Homo sapiens: one gene and its partners. The protein of the gene in region 1 purifies or fractionates together with the protein of each later gene. This does not show direct contact. Each region holds a gene or a part of one and is shown on either strand. Other genes may lie near its edges.

The links. Proteins that work in one complex are often made in the same cells at the same time.
Region 2: the proteins of P2RY12 (region 1) and TSPAN15 purify together in Homo sapiens (affinity purification with mass spectrometry; 3 studies listed by BioGRID and IntAct, with this or other methods). This does not show direct contact.
Region 3: the proteins of P2RY12 (region 1) and TTC39A purify together in Homo sapiens (affinity purification with mass spectrometry; 3 studies listed by BioGRID and IntAct, with this or other methods). This does not show direct contact.
Region 4: the proteins of P2RY12 (region 1) and GOLGA5 purify together in Homo sapiens (affinity purification with mass spectrometry; 3 studies listed by BioGRID and IntAct, with this or other methods). This does not show direct contact.

What each region holds. Positions count from the first base shown.
Region 1 is NC_000003.12:151,335,295-151,340,713, forward strand, and holds the end of P2RY12 (P2Y purinoceptor 12), read right to left. Parts: 5' UTR 5,302-5,419; intron 3,566-5,301; 5' UTR 3,552-3,565; coding exon 2,523-3,551; 3' UTR 1,549-2,522; downstream 1-1,548. UniProt on the Homo sapiens protein: Receptor for ADP and ATP coupled to G-proteins that inhibit the adenylyl cyclase second messenger system. Not activated by UDP and UTP. Required for normal platelet aggregation and blood coagulation.
Region 2 is NC_000010.11:69,457,965-69,461,464, reverse strand, and holds part of TSPAN15 (tetraspanin-15), read right to left. Parts: intron 1-3,500. UniProt on the Homo sapiens protein: Part of TspanC8 subgroup, composed of 6 members that interact with the transmembrane metalloprotease ADAM10.
Region 3 is NC_000001.11:51,299,563-51,303,062, forward strand, and holds part of TTC39A (tetratricopeptide repeat protein 39A), read right to left. Parts: intron 3,012-3,500; coding exon 2,944-3,011; intron 2,855-2,943; coding exon 2,795-2,854; intron 2,172-2,794; coding exon 2,010-2,171; intron 1,655-2,009; exon of another isoform or gene 1,284-1,654; intron 1-1,283.
Region 4 is NC_000014.9:92,835,805-92,839,304, forward strand, and holds part of GOLGA5 (golgin subfamily A member 5), read left to right. Parts: intron 1-1,581; coding exon 1,582-1,645; intron 1,646-3,500. UniProt on the Homo sapiens protein: Involved in maintaining Golgi structure. Stimulates the formation of Golgi stacks and ribbons. Involved in intra-Golgi retrograde transport.

The sequences.
Region 1 (5,419 bases):
AGTAACTGTCATTCTACTCTCATAAATATGTACAGTTATTATGTATCCATAACAATTAAAAACAAAAATGAAAACAAAACATTCCTAAATCCCAAGCTGTACAAAAATAGGCAGTGGGCTGCGATTTGGCCTGTGGGCTATAGTTTGCCAACACCTGCTTCAGACCTTTTCTGTAAGAAACCACTGAGAAAAACTGTCAATAACCAATACCTTTAGGACTTGTAAGCCACTGAGGCTATGGGCAAGACTACATTTTGTTGTCTCATCTTTTGAACTTTTCACATCTGGACCTGAGTCTACAGAATTTGGCTTCATTTAAAAAAGTAAAACTCACTGTGAAATGTGGGGTTAATATATATTAATATGCCAAAAGCTAGAGATAATGGCATGTTTTATGTATAATGATCCCTCCATAAATACTAACTCTCACACTGTTTTGAATGGGTTTAGTTTGATGTAGTATATGATGTCTAAGGTCTCTGAATAAAGATATCCCAGCAAAGTGTGATTTTAGAGTTTTATGTAAAATTTCCATGGCATATATACATACTCATAAAACATAGGTAATTTCAAATACTTTCAGTTACTTTTACTAAAATACCATATTACTATTAGCATTTCTGTTTATTTCATCTCTTGTGGAAATTGTCATCTCAGTGACAAAGATTTTGGGGGTAGTTTGTGTCCCCTCTGTAGTCTCCGAACATCTGACCTCCATGACACTGTGAAGTAGTCAGTTTCAGTCCATGCTCTACCCCAACTTGAATGGGTGGAGGGATGAGTCTGCCTTTCATTTTTGTTATATGCAAAAGAAGAAGGTTAGATTAGTTGATCTCTAGATTGTCTTCTACCTCAAATATCCTGGTATTCCTATAGAACATGTAAATTTATGCATATGATTTTAGAGTGAACTGTACTAGTCTACATAGCAGAAATTATTACTGCTGTTTATCCCAGCAGTGTATAGGTTATATACTATATGAACTGTCTCTGTATCTCCACTGACACTGAGTGCTCACTTTTAGTGGTGCCGGAGAAAGAAATGTGGCTGGTTGGAAATGAATACCACTTAGTAGTTAAATGAGTTCAGCTTCGTAATGAAATAGAACTCAGCAGAGGTTGTAGAGGGTTTCAATAAAAGTGATTATTATTAAAGTTCAGTGAACTTTATACAACAATACACCCTTTTATTTCTTCTGGCATTATATTTAGGTATTGATGTCTGTTCCTCCTTCTGTTTGAGAGTCACCTCTGAGGATCATAAAAAATTGAGATAAGTGATGTAAACTTCCACATGTGTTATATGTTTTGTTTATGTTAAAATAGCGAATATGCCTTGTGTAGAATTAGACTGCATGTTATAAGTCTGACCTGTTTTATCATTTACATTTGAACTTATTGAAATGAGAAGTCATCTTCAGAAGAGACTTTGCACAATAACATGTAATAAAGGTGTTGGCATTAATTCTTAAATGGATTTGATGTAGTTGTATATGGTATGGTGAGTCATGGTATCTAATATCTTTGAACAAAGAATTTACAACAAAGAATGATTTAGAGTTTAATGTAAATTTTGTATTTTATACACACCAATACAAACAAGTAATTACAAACAGATCAATCACTTTCCTCTCAGTAGTTATGCTGTGCAACTTTGTAATCATATTTAATTAATTTTTTTCACTAAGGTAAAATGTTCATTAACCTAATTAGCAGCTATTTTCTAGAAGCTAATTAATAAAGGTAAGTGTCAATGATGGTATTATTGAAGTTGTAAAAAATTAGTAAAACTAGTTTCTCTAGAATTAAGGAAATATTTCTATATTTTTTAGTATTAGAATGTCATAAAAGTAAGTCTCCTTATTTTAATGACTTCGATATTTCTTCTCTTTATTGTAAAGGTCTTCTTTAAATCTTTATCTTCTAAATAAACATAAAAAATTAAGTCCAATCAAATACAGTTTCAATTAGTTTAAATCCCTTAGGTTTTTGCTAATAATGAAAAGTTAATAGTTATTATTCTTTGTGTATCCCACTTACTTAAATTTTTATAAGTATCCCAATAGGTCAGGATTTGGTTAGGGGACTAGGATATATATACATTTTAACTATCATTTTTGGTAAGAAGATTATATCCAATTGATCGTTCTTCCTTAGTTGATTATGAAAAAATAAAATTGTGAACGATAATGTATTTTAAAAATTACAGTAAATATTATATGATTACTCATTTTGGCAAAACTCTGCAAAACATGAATTCTGTGTAGTTTTGCATGCAGCATGACAATTGGATGTCGTTTGTTTTGCTGCTAATACAGCTACAGTTTAGATTAGTTTTCTATATTTTAAGATAGCTTTTCATACTGGAAAGGTAAATGAAAATTGCTTTTGTAATCTTCTGTTTCTTTAGAGTCATTATTATTAACTTAGTTGCTTCTTCGTCAGTTAATATTTTTACTTAGCGCTTTGCTTTAACGAGTTCTGAACACAAAGAGATTGAAATATTTCCTTAGTTAATTTGTTTACATTGGAGTCTCTTCATTTGGGTCACCACCATCCTGTTCTTTTTTCCTATTGTCCTGGGACAGAGATGTTGCAGAATTGGGGCACTTCAGCATACTTATCAAGGAATTTCTGAAGGACTTGCAAAGGAAAAAATAGATGAACGGATCCAGGCATGCATTTAAGGAAGTTAACCACAGAGTGCTCTCTTTCACATAGAACAGAGTATTTTCAGCAGTGCAGTCAAAGACATCCCGGGTTTGGCTCAGGGTGTAAGGAATTCGGGCAAAATGGAAAGGAACAAAACAAATAAAGAATACAGCAATGATAATGAAAACTTTGACGTTCACCTTTTTCCTGGGGACTTTACCTACACCCCTCGTTCTTACGTATGACCGGTACAGTTCTTTTGTAATGAGTGTATAACATACAATAACAATTAAGAAATTAATCCAGAAAATGACTTGACAGATGTAATTTACTATTTCATGCCAGACTAGACCGAACTCTGATTTAAGGAAAGAGCATTTCTTCACATTCTTGTCTCTCGGCTGCCTGTTGGTCAGAATCATGTTAGGCAAAGAGAGTAAGAACATGAATGCCCAGATGACAACAGAGAGAATCTTAGCCCCCAAGAGATTTTTGGGGTTGGATGTTTTAAATGGCCTGGTGGTCTTCTGGTAGCGATCGATAGTTATCAGTCCCAGGAATGAAATACTGATATACATTGTGAAATAAAATATGACGGAGGTAACTTGACACACAAAAGTTCTCAGTGGTCCTGTTCCCAGTTTGGCATCACTAAGAATTTTGAATGGAAAAGTCAGAATCATGAGAAGATCAGAAATGACTGTGTTCTTAAGAAAAATAATAAAGTTTGATTTACTCCGGATTTGAAAGAAAATCCTCATCGCCAGGCCATTTGTGATAAGTCCAACAAAAAACAGGACAGTGTAGAGCAGTGGGAAGAGGACCTGGGTGATTTTGTAGTCTCTGGTGCACAGACTGGTGTTACCAGGCGCAGAGGTGAGGTTGTCGACGGCTTGCATTTCTTGTTGGTTACCTAGAGAACAAAAGAGAGGATGGTTATTTTCAGCCTAAGGTAGTTATTATTGCTGTTATCTCTGTGTGTAACTTTTTTGGACACAGCCTCCTCTAAAAGTTGAGGTTTCTCATCTTCATTGTAGTAGTTAGTATGAACACAGAAAACTGAATCCCAAAATATTTCATTGCAGCAAATATTGCATCTCTGCTGAAGAGAAATGATCTGAAGTACAATATGTGAAGTTATAGATGCTTAGTATTTTTTTATTTGTTGAATGTTTGCCTCTTAAAGCACATTTTGTCTTAGAGCTCACTCATATTTATATGCAAAAGCTGGAAGAGAAATAATGGGGCTGTGCTTTACTCTTCTCTAGCTTCCCCTCCATGCCTTTTAGCTTTTTGGTTTCTATTCACAGTCACTTTTCCCCCCAACGTCCTTATTTCTGAGCTTCTTTTACTGTAGTACCGTCAAAACAGTTGAGAGAGAAATGATGGATAATTGCCTGTTAGAATCCTAAAGTAATAAAAAGGGGGAAGAAATTGATGGAAAATTACTCTTGGGAAACTTATTAAATAAAATACTGAATCAGTAAAAAAAAAAAAAGCTGACCTTTTTTCTTTATATTTGGAAGATATTCCTGCCTCTATATTGCTCACTCATTCAAAGATTGGCCTCACGGAGATTCATTATTCTGCTTCAAATATTTTAACCCATGTGTATCTTATTTCCAACTTTCCTCAGTGTTTTGAAGTTGCTGCATACATTTTCTTGAATATCATTCAGTATAAATTTTAAAACAGTAAAAAAAAAAATAAGAGTCAGAAATGGCCTGTGTATATATGGTCATGAGTTGGCATTCCTCAAAACAGGGCATACTTTCCAGATTTATGGAGTGTGTAATGGTAGCTAAAATAAAATATAGGTTATTACCACAATAGGCAGCTATAATGAAAACTTAACAAGTGACTTGAATATGCTATATGGCATCTACATCTTGGGAATTTGAAATGACGTTTGTAATCTTTTTATTTCACCAGAGATAAGTGAAATTGATTCTATATAAAATATTCTTAATAATCAGAGATATATTGAAAGTACAAATAACAAATTTTAAAAAATAACTTTCGTGTAAAAGATATTTAGATAAATGAATGTAGCACTTAAATTCCCCAAAATGTCCATGGAATTCCTTTCTGTCCTTAATTATGGAAGGAAAACGATTAAGAATCATGTTGTCACAGTATGGCTTCAATTTTCAGCATCTCCTCACCTATTTAGCGCTTTAAAATAATGCTAAACAAAACCTAATGTTTTCCAATACAAGATCACTGATTTTAACCTTTCCTGCTACTGCTGTGTGGTCTTAGTTCATCCCTGACCGTTTTGGAAATTCGACTTAGTGAATATACATTTTGTGTAGTCTGTAAGATATTTAACAAGTATTCTTGACATTGAGAATTTCAGCTCCCTTTATCTGTATTTAAATCTCATTTTATACTTGAGGCAAAGTAACTAAGACCATTTATATTTTATTTCTATGCTTTGTATAATTTTTCTTAATAAAGAGGCTAATTAACAATTGTCTCTGACATCACTAATTAGACTTCTATTTTAATTATAATTTTTATTCCAAATACATGCTTGCATTGATAGTTATTAAGGTTTACAATTTTAAGAGAAACTTGGAAAAAATGTACACACATATCAGAGTGTAAATACATATATTTGTCAAGTACTTGTAGAAATAACATTACCTGATAACTGTTGATTCTGGAGGGTTTGAATGTATCCAGTAAGTAGTAGTTATTGCAACCTGCAGAGTGGCATCTGGTATTTTCCTTTTAATGTCTTAGTTTAGTTGCCAAACCTCTT
Region 2 (3,500 bases), on another chromosome or scaffold:
GGTTCCTGCTCTCCCAGGCAGGAAGTGGGAGGGCTCTGAAGAGGGAAAAACAAGCCCATCTGGGCCAAGGCTGTTTTCCTTCCACCCTCCAGTGAAATACTTGCTTCCCTGCAGGCCCAGATGCAAATGTCTTGGCGAGAAAGTCCCTTTTGGAAAAAATTAAAACCCAACAGTAACCTTTCCCACAGTGAAACAGTTCTTGTCCCAGGAACACATGCAAATGATGGTTCTCACACAAGTTACTTCCCCGCTCAGGGCCTTAGTCTCCTCCTCTATAAAATGGGACAAGGCACATGGGGTCATTCTGAGAATGCAAAGAGATGAAGCAAACTGTGGTGAGACACGTGGCAGACGGCGTCTCCTCCCAGCATCTGCATGAACGGTTACCCAGCCAGATGCCCACTCAGCGCTCTGTGGGCACTGCCTCATCTAAGCCTCACCCCTGTGGGCAGCACAACAGTTATCCCCTCCCAGCAGACAAGAAAACCAAGGCACAGAGAGTTGTCCATGACTTGTCACATGGACCTTCTCCTCACCCGCCAACCAAGAAGTGCTCATCCTCCTCAGCTCTGCTTGGCCTCCAGACCTGGTCTTCCCAGAGGACATTTCTGACCTCAACACTCAGGCCCAAAAAACATTCTGTAGCCCGCCCTCCCTCTCCTAAGACTCATCTCCACTCCTCTCTGCGAGGCCTCCCTGCCCAGTGAAGCCCTCAGAGTCCTCCCAAAGACTCCTCTGTAAAACAGGACAAGACCCCCTGTCCAGCCCAGCTCAAGGGTCACTCTGAGAATCCAAAGAGATGAAGCAAAATGTGGTGGTCAGGCCACCACAGTCAGGCAGCCTAGCTCAGACTGGCCCTTGATGGAACCAGCTCCTCCAGCCAGCTGGTCTGACCCCTTGGGCGTGCATGTGGTCTTTTCCAGGGACTGGGCCCTTCCCACCCCTTAGTTCCTGGGCTAACATGGCACATCGCCAGAGGCAGAGATGGCTGCCAGCTCCTTCACAGGCCAACCCTCTAGCTGGGGAAGGTGACATCGTAAGTCTACAGTGTCTCTACGGTGTCTCTTCCTCACCTCCACCAGCCCAGGGGCCTAGCTTGGAGCTGAACAACTCATGCTGACCGAGGGCTGGGACCCCTCAGAGCCTAGCAGGACACTTCTCAGACGGCCTGCCTGGCCCCGCGTGCCTGTTGTGGCCTAGTGCTTCTGACAGTGTGCCATGGTAGCCCAGAAACTAAGGGGTGGGAGGGGCCCAGCCTCTGGAAAAGACCACATGCACACCCTAGGGGTCAGACCAGCTGGCTGGAGGAGTTGGTTCCATAGCCATCTGTTCTAGGCAGGCTGAGTACCCCCAGGGGCAAAGGAGCCTCCTCTGACAAGACGGATTCCAGAGGTTCTCATCTCATCTCATCTCATCTCATCTCATCTCATCTCATCTCATCTCATCTCCCCAACTACCCCTGAGCAATGCAAGGCTCCCAGGTGACTCTCCCTCCCTCCGTGGGCAGGGAGCCCTAGAGTCTCCCTCCATTCGTGGGGGGGGGGTGCCTAGAGTCTCCCTCCCTCCGTGGGTGGGGGACCCTAGAGTAGGCCCCGTGCTTTGGCACCTCTCATCTCACAGGATCCTCCCCACTGCCCTCTGGGGTACCCACAGAGGAGGCATCTCGGAGGCTCAGAGAGCTGGTCCTTTACCCAGTGTCACACAGAATAGCCAACACCTGATCTAGGTCTCTGGATGGCAAGACCACAGGGCCTGACAATGAAACCCTGCTTCTCAGTCACTCGAACCCCAAACTCTTCACACAGCCAGGCCCCTGCCACCCTCTCCACCCACAGCGCAGCCCTTCCCGGGCTTCCTCATCTGCTGTAGCCATGCTTGCGACCTGCCTCAGGGACTTTGAACTCATGGCTCTCTCTGCCTGGGATGCTCTGGACAAGTCTTTATGGCTGGCTCCTTCTCTATTTGAGCTTCAGCTGAAATGTCAGCTCCTCATAAAGGCTTTCCCTGACCACATCATCGAAAGTGGAAACGCCCATCCCTCCCCACTTGCTCCCTAATTTTCTCCTTAGCACCTATCACAAGTGATATTTATTTACTGCTCTGTCTTCCAAGGCCTGGACTAAACCTGTCTTGTTCATAGTTGCTTCCCACACCTATCACGGTATCACAGTGCCTGGCATTCAGTAGGCATCAAATAACTATTTGTTGACTTAATGAACAAACCAACCAACCAGAGAGCACGGCTGGTTAAGACTGAATGCTCCTGCCTTCCAACAAGAAGTCAATTCAAACCCATTCACATCTAAAAGTTCTCTCTGGGAAAGGTTGTTTTGTTGTTGTTTTTTTTTTTTTTTTTTTTGTCTGTTTTGTTTTCCCCCCATCAACCTCTTCTGACCAGACTTACCCAGAAAACATCTTTCCCCTGTGTGGAGCCAGTTGGTACAGAAATTTCATTATCAGTCCCTTATCAGGTTGACCGTGAGCCCCACCCCAGGGTGGCACTGTGAGTCACCTGGGAAGAAAGGCCTCCGGGCAGGAGGGCAGGTGGTTATTCCTGCTTCTCCAGGAACCAACCCAAAGGCAGCAAGGTCCAGTCCTACGACATAAAGCAATTCCTCTATTAAAGCGGGGAACGAGACCATGTACAAAGTCTAGGTTAAGAGCGAAGGACACTTCTCAGGGCCTTAGTTTGCTCATCTATAAAATGAAGGTGTTGGAAGGTTCTCCAAACCCCTGGCAGGGCTGCAGCCCTGATTCTCTGGATTTTAAAGGCTCTGTGGCCAGACTGGGGGAGGGGAGGACCTCTCTGTGCCCGAGGCCTGAGCCCAGTCTGATGCTATGAGATCATCTCTGACAGCCCGTTAGGCACGGCTGGCCACTTCTCCAATATGAAGGCTGCCCCACTTTCAGCTTCACTATTTGAGTTTCACTATTTGGAATGCTTACCTAGAGCCAGAAAATGAACTTTGCTCGACAAATCAAACACAATAAGAAAGATAATTAAAGAAATAAAATGTCTACATATATGTACAAGATGTCCAGATGGATGTTTACCAACATATAACAGTGGCTGAATCCCAGTGGTAGAATCAAAGGGGACTTTTGCTGTTTTCGTTGTACTTTCCCAAATGGCTTGAATCTTTTAAGCTATGCGCATGTATGATTTTCACAAAAATAATAAAGCTCTTCTCGAAAGTAAAAATCTCCTGGAAACTGTCTCCAGAGAAGTGCTTTCTTTTTGGCCTGGCTTCACCTAGTGCTTCACTGGGAGGCCAGGGACGTGGCCTCTTTCAGAAAGGTTATCTTCTACCCTCACCCTGAGACCAGGGAGAAACATACATGGCGCCTGGAAAGGTCATGGGGGCCCGAGGAAGAAACTGGAGTCAGGCAGCCTGGATCTGGTCTTGGCCTGTCACTGACTTGCTGTGGGCTTTCAGGCAACTCACTTCTCTTCAGGCCTCTGATTTCTTATCGGTAAATTTAAAAGGCTGCACTAGAGG
Region 3 (3,500 bases), on another chromosome or scaffold:
TTACAACCCCCATTTTTCACAGAAGTCCTCATGAGGAGAGTGTTGCAGAGAGAGAGGGACTGGCCACCCCAAAGCCACACAGCGGTCTGGGGACTGAGCCAGATTTCCTGACAGCTGGGAGGCCTGGCCCACCTTCTGTTCCTCTATATAGCAGCTGTGTGCCCCCACCAGGTCTCTCCTTCCCCATATGGTTAGCCCCAGCCACCCACCTCACTCTACAGGAAGGCTTCGAGAGTCACTTTCAGTTCAAAAAGGTTCCCTAAGGCCCAGAATCCCAGCACTTTAGGAGGCAGAGGTGGGAAGATTGCTTGGGCCCAGGAGTTCAAGACTAGCCTGACCAACATAGCAAGACCCTGTCTCTAAAAAAAGAAAAAAGGTTCCCTGAGGCTTTGTCCTTTTTGGGAGTAGGAGGTGATGAGGAGGGGGTGTGGGGGCCATGGGAGCTGGGCCTGAGGAAGCACCTTCAACAGCAGGGTGGGCTCAGGGCAAGCCCCGACTCCTCAGGAGGACTCTAGGAGCAAGAGAGAAGCAGAGGCCTCTGAGTCACACAGGACTGTCCTCAAATCCGGTGTCTGTCACCAACAGCCATGTGGGTGGGAAAGTCACAGTCCTCGCTTAGCATCAGTGGCCCTCATGTGCCCAATGGAGATAATAACTTCTCCTCACTGGGTGTGGTGTGGAGGACATGACAGGTGCCAGACATGTTGAGAGCTCAGTAGAAGCCTGCTCCCTTCCCCAGCCCCACCTGCCCCAGACCCAGAGAATTCCCCTTCAGCTTGGTCCCCAGGCAGGGCTACGGAAGAGACCTCCATGCAGAGGAGGGGGAGGGACCAGATGCAGATGACAGGTCTCCTAACAGGTGCCAATGTGGGTCAGTTCTAACGGCTGCCTGGAGCTTTGCAGGGAAGGTATCTAAGGTCACAGCTAGGCTCATGGCAGAGGATTGATTAGCAATGTCTGCTATGGGCAGGGGATGAAGCCATGAAGACACATGTCCTGTGTATTTACAAATAACAGATTAGACGTTTGCTGAGCTAGGTGGTTGTAAGACTCTTGGTTCCAATTTCTGCACTATCATTACTATGATGGTACAAGCTAACACTTATTTCAATACTTACCATGATAAATTTCATCTTTGGTAGGCGGGCATCTGTTTGGCTTTGTTTTGCCTGTATGGCATCTTGTTAATCCCTCCACTATTTCTGGGTGCATCATTTTCTTCTGTGGAACCACCCCTCTCCTACTCTCAGCCCATGAGGAATCTTCCCACCCCTCTGTTCCAGGCATTGGCAGGTGACAAGTCAGACCAGTGAGGCTCAAACTGTGGGACTCTGGTTGAAACCAAGGGGAGGATATGAGTAGAAGCAGCCCGTGGCCACCTTGCCTGTCACATGGAGAGAACCTTCCTGCAAAGATGCAGCAGAAACAAAGATGTCATAGGAGAGAGCACAGCCACAAATGGAAAGACCAAGCCAGACGACATCATTTGAATTCCTGGATCCAGCCCTACCTGAAGTCGGATGTGCCAAGAATGTTCAGTTATATGAGCCTTTTGTGTTTTGGACCTGCATAGTCCAATATAGTGGCCACAAGCCCTACATGGCTATTTAAATTTAACATTTAGTTAATTAAAATTAAATAAAACTGAAAACAATCAGTTTCCCAGTTGCACTAGGCACATTTCATGTGCTCATTGTGCACATGTGGCTGGTGACTACCATATTTGGGCAGTGCATAAGTAGAACATTTCTACCACAGAAACAGTTCTACTGGACAGAGGGAGCCATGTTTCTGTCCTTTGTGACTAGAAATCTCTTTGTGACACATTGTGGTTCAGAAGTTTCTCTTGTGGTCTTTAGTTCCTTCCAAGCCTGAGTCCTATTAGAATTTAAGGTTATGTTTAGATTCCAGCTGAGACATCTGTGTTCAGTTAGGGATTTGGCCCGTGGTCTGGAGGCACACAGTCAGCCCTGGTCACCCAATGCCCCTAACACGTGGCATCAGCCCACCTTGGACCAGCAGTTCTCCTTGCTGAGCAGGTCGGCGTAGAAGTAGGACATCTTCCACTGGCCCTTGTAGGTGAAGCACCACATCAGCTCCCAGTAGCACATGTGGTGGAACTGCTTCCAGTGCTGCTGGGCCTCACAGCACTCCTCGAAACGCCGGATGGCCTGCAGGCACCTTCTGGTCAGCCTGACGGGTGCCCACCCAGCCCCAACCCCTCTGCATCCTCCGAACCTCCCAACACCACAGCAGACCGGGACTCCTCCAGGGCATAGTGGTCCAGCCCTGTGCTAGGCTCAGGTGGGGCCCCAGGAGCCAGGAGATCTGGCCTCCAGTCCTGGTTTTACCTCCTAAGTCTTACATGACGTTGGGCTCAAATACAGCCCCCGCCTAGGACTCTGGTTTTTAGTAACAAAATGAAAGAGCAGGAGAGAGCTATAATGGAGGGGAGGTACCAGACTCCAGCCTAATCGTCATGCCCTAAACAGATGGGCTTTCCTAACCTCTGCCTCCCTCAAGCACCTCCCTCCACCTCCCTCCACTGCAATGCTGCAGTCCTATATCTCCCAGTCAAAATCCCAGGCACCACAAATGCCTCCTCCTCCCTTGTCTTCCCAGGCTGCTCTGCCAGAAGGGCCTCTCCTGCCCCTGCTCTCTGGTTGGTTCTCTCTTGGCCCCCCCCCCGCCCCCAGTCTATCCTGTCCCTGAGTATGTCACATGTGCCTGACTTCCTGCTGGTCTGGGAGACCCCGAGGGATCCCCAGCCCCGGCCCGGACCCCCATCACTCACTGCATCAATGTTGCCTTTAATGACTTCAATCCTCCCTGCAAAGAACAGGAAGATGGCACCCTGCAATGACACACATGTAAGTCCGTGTGGGTCCGTGGGGTCTGTGGGTGTTTGTGGGCTGGGGGTACCGGGCAGCACATGGGGCTCACCTTAGGGTACCGGTTCAGGTAGGGCTTCAAGAGCTTCTCGGCCTCCTCGATGTTGACGTTCCCAGTACCTGGAGGAGATGGTGGGGGAGACACAGAACATGTCACCACCCCTGGCTCCTGTGATCCTGCCAGCAACCCAGCAGGGGCTTCCCAGGGTCTCCCCCTCCCCCTCTGTGAAATCGAGATAATTCTCCCTGTCCCTAGGGTGACATGAGGATTAAATAAGGCAGGGCAGATATCGCCCCCAGCACTTCACAGGGCTCGATAACCAGGAGCCTGCATCCACCAAGGCTGTGCCCAGAACCATAAGGTGCTGTACACAGTGTCTTCACACCCTCTACAGGGTGGGCACAACCACCCCCATTTCACAGATGAGAAAACTGAGGCTGGAACCCAGTCACACTGTGAGGCAGTGGGCGTCAGCAGGCCAGTCCCCAGGACAGTGGATGTGGCTCTGTTTCTGGTTTCAGTACCCCTATCCCTAGCCACAGGGCATGAACAGGGTCTGTAGCCCCTCGTTCTCCTTCCCCCTTGGAGACGACCAAACCCCAGGGCCC
Region 4 (3,500 bases), on another chromosome or scaffold:
ACTTTTATTTATTTCACAGTTATATTACACTTTCATGAAGTGACTTCTTTCATGATATTTGAAATATCATGTCAGAAATTATGTCAAGAGGTCTGCCAATGCCTACATTTTATTGAAGATGATTAACCCTGACTGTATCTCTTTTTTCTATAATAAATTCTATTTTTAAAAACTTCATTAAATTTTATTGAGAAAGCCTCTACTTCATGTAAAAGTATCCATTTGAATGTTTTATCCCAGAATTTTATCATGCTATTAGAATAAAAGATGCTACTATATATAGCTGAACAGCACTCATTGTATTATATATTTTATATAAATAACAAAATTTATGTTTATGTATATGTAAATTTTTTATATTAGCAGACATCTGCCTTATCAAAAAAATATTTTAATAGTTTACATATAGCATTGATAAGGTTCTTGTCTAAATAACCTACTGTACCCTTTTTCTTTGTAGTGTTTATAATGAAAAGTTTTAATGAATTGTGGCATAATAATCTTTTTGTACCTTTTTGTGTCAGAATTGAGCTATTGTATTAAAAATAAGAATGATATACCAAGATGACTGAAGCCTCAGAACTAGGATGCCATAGCCATTATGTCCAAATTAAGCACATCTAGTTCAACTATTCATTTATTCAACATACGTAGTTGTTAGAGAACCTAAGTGCAAGACATTGTGCTAGTGGCAATGAAAGAAGCAGAAAGGGGTATTGCTTCTGCATGTATCTGTCTTGATAGGGAAAAAAATGTTGCAGAGGCATAATAGATCTGGACATCATATTGCTTCCACACTATTTATTCAAATGCATGAGTTTATAGCTTTGTACCTTTTAGAAGCATGTATCTATACAAAAGCTTCTAGATTAGCTATTTGCAGGTTAATGCCAACCAGACTCTTTTTTTCCCCAGTCACATAGTTGACACCCACCTAATCTTTCGTAACTTCTGTAATTCCACTAAAAAAAGATTTAGGCCGGGCACGGTGGCTCACACCTGTAATCCCAGCACTTTGGGGAGGCTGAGGCAGGCGGATCACCTGAGGTCAGGAGTTTGAAATCAGCCTGGCCAACATGGCGAAACCCCGTCTCTACTAAAAATACAAAAAAATTAGCCAGGCGTGGTGGTAGTGGCGCACCTGTAATCCCAGCTACTCGGGAGGCTGAAGCTGGAGAATTGCTTGAACCCAGGAAGCAGAGGTTGCCGTGGGCAGAGATCGCGCCATTGCACTCCAGCCTGGGCGACAGGAGAGAAACTCCGTCTCAAAAAAAAAAAAAATTAGGGATCAAGTTTGCCTCCTACAGTTGTGGCTGTAGAATTAAGAGAAATACCTGTGCTGAAGTTTAACAGCCAAGCCCCAAATAATGATAAAAGCATTTATTTACCTCTATGACATTTTTATATTATTATTTCAAGTAATCATTTAACAGTCTGCTATAAAAATTGTTCTTCTGTGGTAGCCACATAAATAGTTTAAATGAGTTAAATTTATCAGCATCATTAGATATTACCACAGGAAGATTTGTTTTGACTGTGACTCTTCTCTCTCCTCTCCCCCTCACACCTGTGTCTGCACAGTATTCGCCTGGGAATTTTTCTCCGAAGATACCCCATAGCGCGAGTTTTTGTAATTATATATATGGTAAGTAAATTTATTTGAAAAAACAATGATGCACTTGATTTTTAACTAGTTTTTTTTTTTGTTTGTTTGTTTGTTTTGGCTACAGATCTTATTGATATTTTAGCAATCAATCAATTTTTTTTTGTTTTTTTTGAAACAGGGTCTGGCTCTTTTGCTGAGGCTGGAGTTCAGTGGTGCAGTCTTGGCTCACTGCAGCCTCTACCTCCCAGGCTCAAGCCATCCTCCCACCTTTGCCTCCCAAGTAGCTGGGACTACAGGCGTGCACCACCATGCCCAGCTAATATTTGTATTTTTTGTAGAGACAGGGTTTCACCATGTTGCCCAGGATAGTCTCAAACTTCTGGGCTCGAGTGATCCTCCCACCTTGGCCTCTCAGAGTGCTGGGATTTCAGGAATGCGCCAACGCACCCAGCCAGCAGACAGTTTGGAAAGAGAGAACTCAGTTTTAGTAATTAAGATTTCTTTTGGTAGAGTATAAATTGACAATTCATTATGTCTAGAATATAAATTCCTCAAAGGCTTTTCCTACAAATAAAATTAAACGCAGTCTAATAGTTACCTCCATTTTAAAGCCCTTCTAATGATAAAAACAATTTGAATACAAAACAATTTTTTATCTTGACGTTGTAAAGTTGCTTTAATTGTTTTCATGTGTTTTGCTTTATTTTCTAAAAGAGCCTCAAGATTGATTTACTTTCTCCCAGATTTCTTACCTCTAGTAAAATGGTTACGGTAGTTTGGGATGCCATTTCGCATGTACCGTGTGCCTAAAAAGGCTGCTAACTATTTGGAGTGGGTATGTCTAAAAGTAGTTGGGTTGAATGAAAATGGGCTGTTTTCTTGAAAAGAAATTTCTTTAAAAAGAAATTTCTCTGTGATCCACTAGAGGGAAGAGTTATTCCTTTAAATACAGGTTTTGTGTTGTTTTTTTTTTCTGAGACTGAGTCTCGCTCTGTCACCCAGGCTGGAGTGCAGTGGCATGATCTTGGCTCACTGCATTCTCCACCTCCCAGGTTCAAGCGATTCTCCTGCCTCAGCCTGCCGAGTACCTGGGGCTACAGGCGCACGCCACTGCACCTAGCGAATTTTTCTGTGTTTGGGAGATGGGTTTTCACTATGTTGGCCAAGCTGGTCTCAAACTCCTGACCTTGAGTAATCCGCCCTCTTCGGCCTCCCAAAGTGCTGGGATTACAGGTGTGAGCCACTGCACCTGGCATAATAACAAGTTTTTAAGAAGGAAAGCGTGGGGAGTACAAAAAAAAATTGAATGGCATCAGAAAGCATTCAGAATATGCCCCAGAGGGGTTGATTTCCCAGGTGTTAGTGATGATGAGTAACACGGGCACTGTCATGAGATGGTGCCCATGAGATGTGATTTCTGGCACACGACAAAGTGGTGAGGCACTTAGTGATGGAATCTCGTATCATTTCGGTACTACCATGAGGGAATTAAATTTGTCACTATGAATCGTGTTCTGGGCCCTACATCAGCCTCTGAAACGACACATTATTTCTGTCTAGAATATTTTCCCATCTCTTCTTCACCGAACATTGGTTAAACTCTCTTTCAGAATACCAACTATAACTGTTCTAAAAGTGTTTTCTAACCAACTTCATGTGTATCTAGCAGTTTTAATCACTCTGCATTATAATCAACTGATTATTTTGCATACACGTGCATATTGTGAATGTGTTGAAGTTCAGAGCTGACTCCTCTCAACTGAATTCTGTAGGAGTAGCAAGTCTTTATTACCTTCCATTGCACTGAGCTCATTTAGTTGTTTCATTCATTCCTTCATGTGTCCCATAGGGGATACAGAGGCAGGTAAGACACAGTGCCTGCCCTCAGTGTACA